Linked DNA regions of Homo sapiens. The protein of the gene in region 2 purifies or fractionates together with the protein of the main gene of each other region. This does not show direct contact. Each region holds a gene or a part of one and is shown on either strand. Other genes may lie near its edges. The genes, in order: WDR19 and ACSL3.

The links.
Region 1: the proteins of ACSL3 (region 2) and WDR19 purify together in Homo sapiens (affinity purification with mass spectrometry; one large-scale study listed by BioGRID and IntAct). This does not show direct contact.

What each region holds. Positions count from the first base shown.
Region 1 is NC_000004.12:39,227,389-39,231,215, reverse strand, and holds part of WDR19 (WD repeat-containing protein 19), read right to left. Parts: intron 3,007-3,827; coding exon 2,859-3,006; intron 2,731-2,858; coding exon 2,526-2,730; intron 1-2,525. UniProt on the Homo sapiens protein: As component of the IFT complex A (IFT-A), a complex required for retrograde ciliary transport and entry into cilia of G protein-coupled receptors (GPCRs), it is involved in cilia function and/or assembly.
Region 2 is NC_000002.12:222,919,831-222,923,657, forward strand, and holds part of ACSL3 (fatty acid CoA ligase Acsl3), read left to right. Parts: intron 1-1,449; coding exon 1,450-1,600; intron 1,601-2,877; coding exon 2,878-3,001; intron 3,002-3,247; coding exon 3,248-3,319; intron 3,320-3,827. UniProt on the Homo sapiens protein: Acyl-CoA synthetases (ACSL) activates long-chain fatty acids for both synthesis of cellular lipids, and degradation via beta-oxidation.

The DNA.
Region 1 (3,827 bases), on a different chromosome or scaffold from region 2:
CTTCAGCCTCCCGAATAGCTGGGACTACAGGCGCATGCCATGACACCCGGCTAATTTTTTGTATTTTTAGTAGAGACAGGGTTTCATCGTGTTAGCCAGGATGGTCTTGATCTGCTGACCTCATGATCCGCCCGCCTCGGCCTCCCAGAGTGCTGGGATTACAGGTGTGAGCCACCGTCCCCGGCCCAGCCCACTCTTTAATGGATTGTCTGTGGCCACTTTCCTGCTACAACAGCCAGACTGAGTAGCTGCGATAGAGACCCTATGGCCCGTAAAGCTTGAAATATTTGCCATTTGGACCTTAACACAAAAGGTTTTCCGACCTCTGGTTTAAAACATGAACATAAATGCCAATTAAACTTTTTGTGGAACCTCTACATGAGTGAATATATTACATCCATCTATCTATTCATTCATCCATTTATCTATTCACCTATCCATTTTTTCATCCAACACACATTTACTGAACTCGTTACATGCTTGGAAACATGATACAAAAATCAACCACAGTTGCTGTCCTTAAGGCAGTCACAATTGGGGAAGGTGGAAGAGACAGATAAGGAAACAAATGACTATAGCATAGTTTGACAGAGGTAACTGAGTACTTACAATAGGTAACTCTTTGTGCTAAGTCTTTTGCATAAATTCTCTTACCCTAATAACCCTACCCACTAAGTATTATTATTATGTCTCCTTTATAGATTAGGAAAATGAGGCTTAGAGACGTCAAAAGACTAGCCCAAGGCACACAGAGGTAAGTGGTGTCATGCTCTTCACCACTGTGTATACTGCATCCTGGCTCTGAGGCAACACATCAGAAAGACCCCAAGCAGGACTGCCTGTGGTGGTGGGGAAGTCGGGGAAGGCTTCCTGGAGCAGGAGATGGCTCCACTTATCGCTGATGGGTAAAGAAAGAGGGGTTACTACATTCAGAGCAGGGAAAGGGCATTCCAGGAAGAATCATGAAATATATGCAATTTCAGCAGCCAGTGGAACAGAGAGGGACTTGAGTGGAGACAGTTGAGCTGGTGTTAAATCATGAAGTGCCTAGTAGGTCATAGAGGTCCCCCAGGAATGGATTTGTTTGTAAAGGCAATAGAAAGTCACTGAAGGATCCTGAGCAGGGAAATAAGAGGATCAAATCACATCTTCAAAAGTGTGTGGAGAACAGATGAGATCGTTACAAGGCTATTGGCAGACAGAGCAGTTAGGAAGTGGTTAGTTACATTACACATTATTCCAGGTGAGGGCCTGGGTAAAGATGAGGGAACACGGGAGGAGGAAAGGAGCTGGTGTATATGTGTGTTAAGGCATGTGCATGTGTGATTACAGTGAGGGAAAATAGGGGCCTGTGGAAATTGATGAGTTCAGTTTTAGAAAGGGCAAGTTTGAAGAGCTCATGGACTTCCAAGGACACATGACTGGAAGGTAGTTGTAAGTACAGGTTTAAGATAAAGACACAGATTTTAGAGTCAGCTTCATATGGGTGGTATGTTGAGCCATGTTAAGCAGAGGAGATTCACTCAGGAAGAATAATTAGAGTAAGAAGAGAAGGAAACTCATGAGACCCCAATAAACAGCAGCATTTAAGAGAGGCTCGGAAGAATTAGAACGTCAAAGGAATTCACGGTGGCTCTAGGAGATAAGAGAAAAAAACAGTAAAAGGAAATTATAAGCAAAGCAAAATCAAACCTCACTATGATGAAGTCAAGATATTGTTGAAATAATTAGGTTTATTTTATTAGGATTTCCCAATAACTAGGCTCTCTGGAAGCTTAGAAACCGTTTTGTTCTTAAGGGCTTTTCTTGTAATAAAGTACTCATAATAAAAACAGCTGACTATCTTATCTGAGCCTCACAATATCCCTGTGAAATGAACAAGGTAAGTGCTGTTATCTCCATCTATTGAATAGGATTTGACATTTTATCAAAAAGACACCTGCACTCATATGTTTACTGCAGCACTATTCACAATAGCAAAGTCATGGAATCAACTTAAGTGTCCATCAACAGATGACTGGATTTTAAAAAGTGGTGTGTATATATAGATATACACACTATGGAATACTACTCAGCCATTAAAAAAATGAAATCATGTCTTTTGCAGCAATATGGATGGAATTCGAGGTCATTATCCTAAGTGAAATGCCCCAAAGTCAAAAACTGCATGTTCTCACTTAGAAGTGGGAGGTAAACAATGGGTACACATGGACATACAGGTGGAATAATAGATACTGGCAACTCCAAAAGGCGGGATGGTGAGACAGGGTTGAGGGATAAAATACTACCCACTGGGTACAGTGTTCACTATTCTGGTGATGGGTACATTAAAAGCCCAGACTTCACCATATGCACTATATCCATGTAGCACAACTGCACTTGTACTTCTACATTTACAAAAAAAAAAAAAATTCTTGCAAGGATAAAGAATAAAGCAATAAAATAAGATAGAATAATTATAGGATTTGACCTTTAAAATCACAAAAGCAAATGAGAAGTTCCAAAAGAAGTGTGTGAAAGCCTACCTCTTTAGCATTAAATTCTGTGCCAGCATTGGTCTCAGTTCGTCAGGCCCCGTATCTTTTAAGTTGCTGAGAAAGCCATGGGTGCTAAGGTAGATGTTGTTTACTTTTCCACTCTGTGTTTGGCAGGTCAGCTCTCCATTATATAGCAGCAAAGGTTTATGAGCAAAAGGAACTTTGGTGCTACCAGCCAAAATAACCTTGGCTCCTACATTATAAAACAGACATCGCAATGCTGAAAGCTAATACTCAGCACAAACATCAGAAAGAATGTTTTAATTTTACTGCAATGGGAAATTCATCTGTCAGCGAATATACACAAAAGGGGTTTAGTACCTTGTATAGTGTCCTTGTGAAAGACATAAGTGTACACCTTATCATCATCATAAGCAATAAATACACCTTTATCCATTGGCCAGTTTTCCCAAAGAACACCTTTAATGGTTGGTGAAAAATCTGGAATCTCATAGGTAGCGTCATTGACCTACAAAATAAAATTTACAGATTTGCCCCAAGTCTGTACTTGAATCATTATCATTTGCCGTGGTAGAAGCCTGTTTGCAGCCTTAGCTGGCTTAGCTTACTGAGTCATATTCAACCTAACATCACTCCAACAACAACAGGAAAGAAAGTTTCTTTTTCCATTCCTATCCTAGGTCTGGCTTGAAAAAACTATAGTTATTTGGAAAAGCCAAGGTTTGATCTAAAATCTGGCAAATTTGTAGGAGAACCCACAAGTCTAGACACAAAGCTTCAGGTTAAGGAAAAAAAATTAAAGCTGCTCAGGATGACAGAAATTTAAACTACGAACACACTTGTACTTGTGTTTAGAAATTTTTCAATAATACTGAGTATTTGATAATAGTGGGTATTAAGAAACAAATTAACTCACATGATTGAAGTAAATTACACTAGGGATACTTTATTTCAAAAGCTTCTCTAAAATGCATGTCAACAAATATAAATATACAATCATCCCTCAACATCCATGAGGGATTGGTTCCAGGATCTCCCACGGATAGCAAAACCCACAGATGGCCAAATCCCTGAATAAAATGGTGTAATATGTGTATAAACTATGTACACCCTCCCTTATACTTTAAATCATCTCTAGATTACTTATAATACCTAATACAATATAAATGCTATGTAAATAGTTGTCATACTGTATGGGGAATATAGACAACAAAAGTTTTCTGCACAGGTTTAGCACAGACAAAACCATCCATTTTTCCCCTGAATATTTTTGATCTACAGTTGGCTGAATCCATGGATGAGGAACCCACAGATAGGGTGGGCTGACTG
Region 2 (3,827 bases):
GGTAGTGGGATATTTAGATGCAGATATATTGTGGACAGTGGTGTGTAAAAGTCTAGTACTCGAGTTATGTTTGGACTTAGAGATTTGGAAGCTAGAAGCAGTTAGGTTTTAATTATAGCTGTGGGAGTAGGGGGTGAGGTCACCAACAGGGAATGGTGGCTTCAGAGGCTACTAAGGACTAGTCAGAGAGGAAAGAAGAAAATATCTAGTAGTATGTGGTTCCTGGAAGCCAAGGGAAAGGAGATCTTGGTGAGTCATCAGCAGGATCAGGGGCTGCATGCAGAGGTCAGATGACACAAGGATTGTAATTTCCAAGAAGTGGTGGTGTTGGAGAAGGGTGCTGTGCATTGAAGGAGTGAAGGGCTGATTTGGAAGTAAAGACTTCCAAGTGTAAACATTATTTAAGAAATGTATCTTGACTGACAGGAGAGGAAGGGTATTCTATTGGGAGTACATTTAAATAATTTTTTCACACTCATTTAGAAGTTCACATGTAGAGTAGTTCTGGGAGTGGTTCAGACATATCAGCAATGCCAACCATGACCTATTTCTCTTTGTTCTTCTGCTGTGCCACCTCTATAGCTTCTCAGCTGTTGTCCTTAGGCTGGTACTCTTCTGATTTCAAATGGTTCACATCGTGTTTTAATGCAGGACTCTGAGTGTAACCAAGTTAGTCACCATTCTGAAGCAGTGAATAGTTTTTAGCAAACACCTAGATACTCTAGTCCAAAGCTACCTTTATTTCTTAGTTGAATTACTGGGATAATCTTGTCTCCCTGATACCTTTTTTCCCCTTGTAAAGTTAGTTAGCCACACAGCAGCCAAAGTGATCTTTTTTTTCACAGATAATAACATACTCCTGTTCAAAACAACATTGCTTTACATCCAGAACGTAATCCAGAGTTCTTCCCGTGGCCTTTGAGGTCCTATGTGTGGTCCCTGATAGCCACTTGACTATTGTTTCTTGCCACTCTTCCTCTTGCTCACTCTGTTCCAGCCACACTCCTTGCTGGTCTTTAGATATGCTGAGCACATTCCTACCTTTGGGTCTTTGCATTTGCTTATTTCCTTCTAATTAGAACACTCTTCTCCCAGTTCCAGGGTTTCCATGGCTCCCTTCCTCACTTTATTCAGGCCTTTGCTAAACGAAACTCTACAGAGACGGTCTCCAGGCTTTTCCATCCAAATAGCATCTATTGTCATCTTCTCACCTTGTCTTGCTTCAGTTTTCTTCATAGGTTAATCTGTTTGTATATCTCAATAGAATATATCTCCCATACGTGCAGGGACTTGATCTGTTTTGTTGATCTCAGTATAACTAATATTTGTTGAATTGAGTTAAATTAACTCAATTTGATTGAGTTATTTATTTGATGATAATGAAAAGAAATTGTTGATACAGCTGAATCTCATGAAAGTGTATGTGTGTGTTTTTTCTCTTCAATGCAGAAAACCAACCTCATAGCAAACCATTGCCCTCAGATATTGCAGTAATCATGTACACAAGTGGATCCACAGGACTTCCAAAGGGAGTCATGATCTCACATAGTAACATTATTGCTGGTATAACTGGGATGGCAGAAAGGATTCCAGAACTAGGGTATGTCATAGTAAAGTAACATTGAGTAGTTAAGTATTTATGTCTGTTATAATGTTAGCATTTGTGTCATTTTATTAATATATGGCTAAATTAGTCCCTCAGAGTCTGTTTGTAGTAGGCATTTCCTTAAAAAATAAAAAAGGACATTAAAATTAATGGCAAAATAGTTATAGTTGTGAGGTTGAAAATATATCATATAGATATATTTTAAAAAGTACAGAACTTAAATTTGTATAGTTGTAAATCCTTTGTTTTAATCAGCTTGTATTTGCTGCTGTAGTTTTTTTTATATCTAAATACAATTCAGGTGAACAGGTAACTTAATTTATCCACTAAGTATTTGTTGAGCTTCAGTATTTGGTCTCTGATTTTTCTTGTTAATACAAACTCCAGTGGTAGCAGTGGAAGGTAGAGTGGAGTGGGGAAGAGACTGATGGAGGAAACCAGATGGAAGTTTGAGGGACTGTCAAGGAAACATTGCCAGAGATGCAATTGGTATTCTGATGACCGATAGGGTACAGTGGTTGGATATTTTTGATGCTTTTATGCACAGAAATTACAAACATACACGCACACACACACTCACGTAATTGCTATGGTACTGAACTTGGGGATGGAGGAATGTCTCTTACGTATGCATACATTTCAGAAAAAATTAAGTGCAACAATTTTCTTACAGGTTTGCCTCAGTTACCTTCTATATTTTGGTTATGGGGGCAGCTCTTGAAGTATATACAAATACTTACACATTTTCTGTATATTAAGATCTAATTTATTATGTAATCCAATTCCCACAACAAGAGTCTTATCTGTAAAATTTCTGGCAGATAGTTGTGGATTCTACTTTAACTCTTCTGGTTGGCAACCCACTAGATGTAAAGACCATTTCCTCCTTGGATGATTTCTTCTGTTCTTCAAAAGAACCCTGTATTATTATTTGTTTAAGCCACTGTTTCTTGTGCCTCAGTACTTTGCTTCAGCAACGCTTATAATTCCTGAGTGCTTTTAAGTAGGACGGGAAACAGCATTCCTTCCTGCAAGTGTGCGCCTCCTTGCTTTTGGGTTGAGCTGTAATTCTTTTTCCCTCCCATCCCCAGCATCTGCCTATCCTCTGTTTTCACCTGTCTCTCTCTCTCTCTCACAAACACATACACACTTGACCAGCAAATTGATGCCCTGGGGCCCTTCCATGTGCCTTCAAGCTTGCTCCCATTATAGGGCACTTTTGGCATAGACGACACCTGACTTTTGTTTCTGACGTCTCCCTTTTCTTTTAGAGAGGAAGATGTCTACATTGGATATTTGCCTCTGGCCCATGTTCTAGAATTAAGTGCTGAGCTTGTCTGTCTTTCTCACGGATGCCGCATTGGTTACTCTTCACCACAGACTTTAGCAGATCAGGTAAGTTCAGTGTCTGTGACTTGAAATACTAAAAAATCATAGTGAATTGTAATGCATTTTTTTCAGTCAGTATGACAGTATATTGCGAGAGCGATGGTTCATTTTAAAATGAGCTTTAGCCTTTTAAGTGCTTCTTAGACTGTAAGTACATTAAAATAATTTATAATAGGCTTTTTGATCTAAGAATACCATTGAATTTTAAAAATAAGGATCACTTTATATGGATCACTTTTTCTTATTTTGTAGTCTTCAAAAATTAAAAAAGGAAGCAAAGGGGATACATCCATGTTGAAACCAACACTGATGGCAGCAGTTCCGGTAAGAAGTGACCCTTATTTAATATTGAGTATTAAAGAAGTATCACCCGCTACAAAGCATTAGTGCTAGTGAAAAATATATTGTTGACAAGGTAGTTTATGTAGGATTTATTCCTTATTGATTATAAATATTGCCTTAGGCGCTATGGGATTTCTTCAGTCTTGTTTTAGCTTGCTTTCTTATTTACTAAGCACTCAACTTAATTTCAGCTTCTGTGTGTAATTATCAACTTGTTTGCCTAAATACCTTCTTGTTAAAATAAAAATTATTTTCATGATATCTGTTGGTGAATTCATTGACACTTGAAGCCTATTGAGAGCTAGGAGGGAAAGTGTGAGATCACCTCCTTTTAAGCAAGCTGTATAGTTACCTCCTGAGTCCTCAGGGAAAGTCTGGCCTAAACACCAAACAAAGTGACAGAGAAGCTGGTGCAGCTTTGAATGACTTAAGAGGGGCTGTTCATCCTTACATAATATAGGGGCCTGGGAATAAGACAAGGGAAATGGGG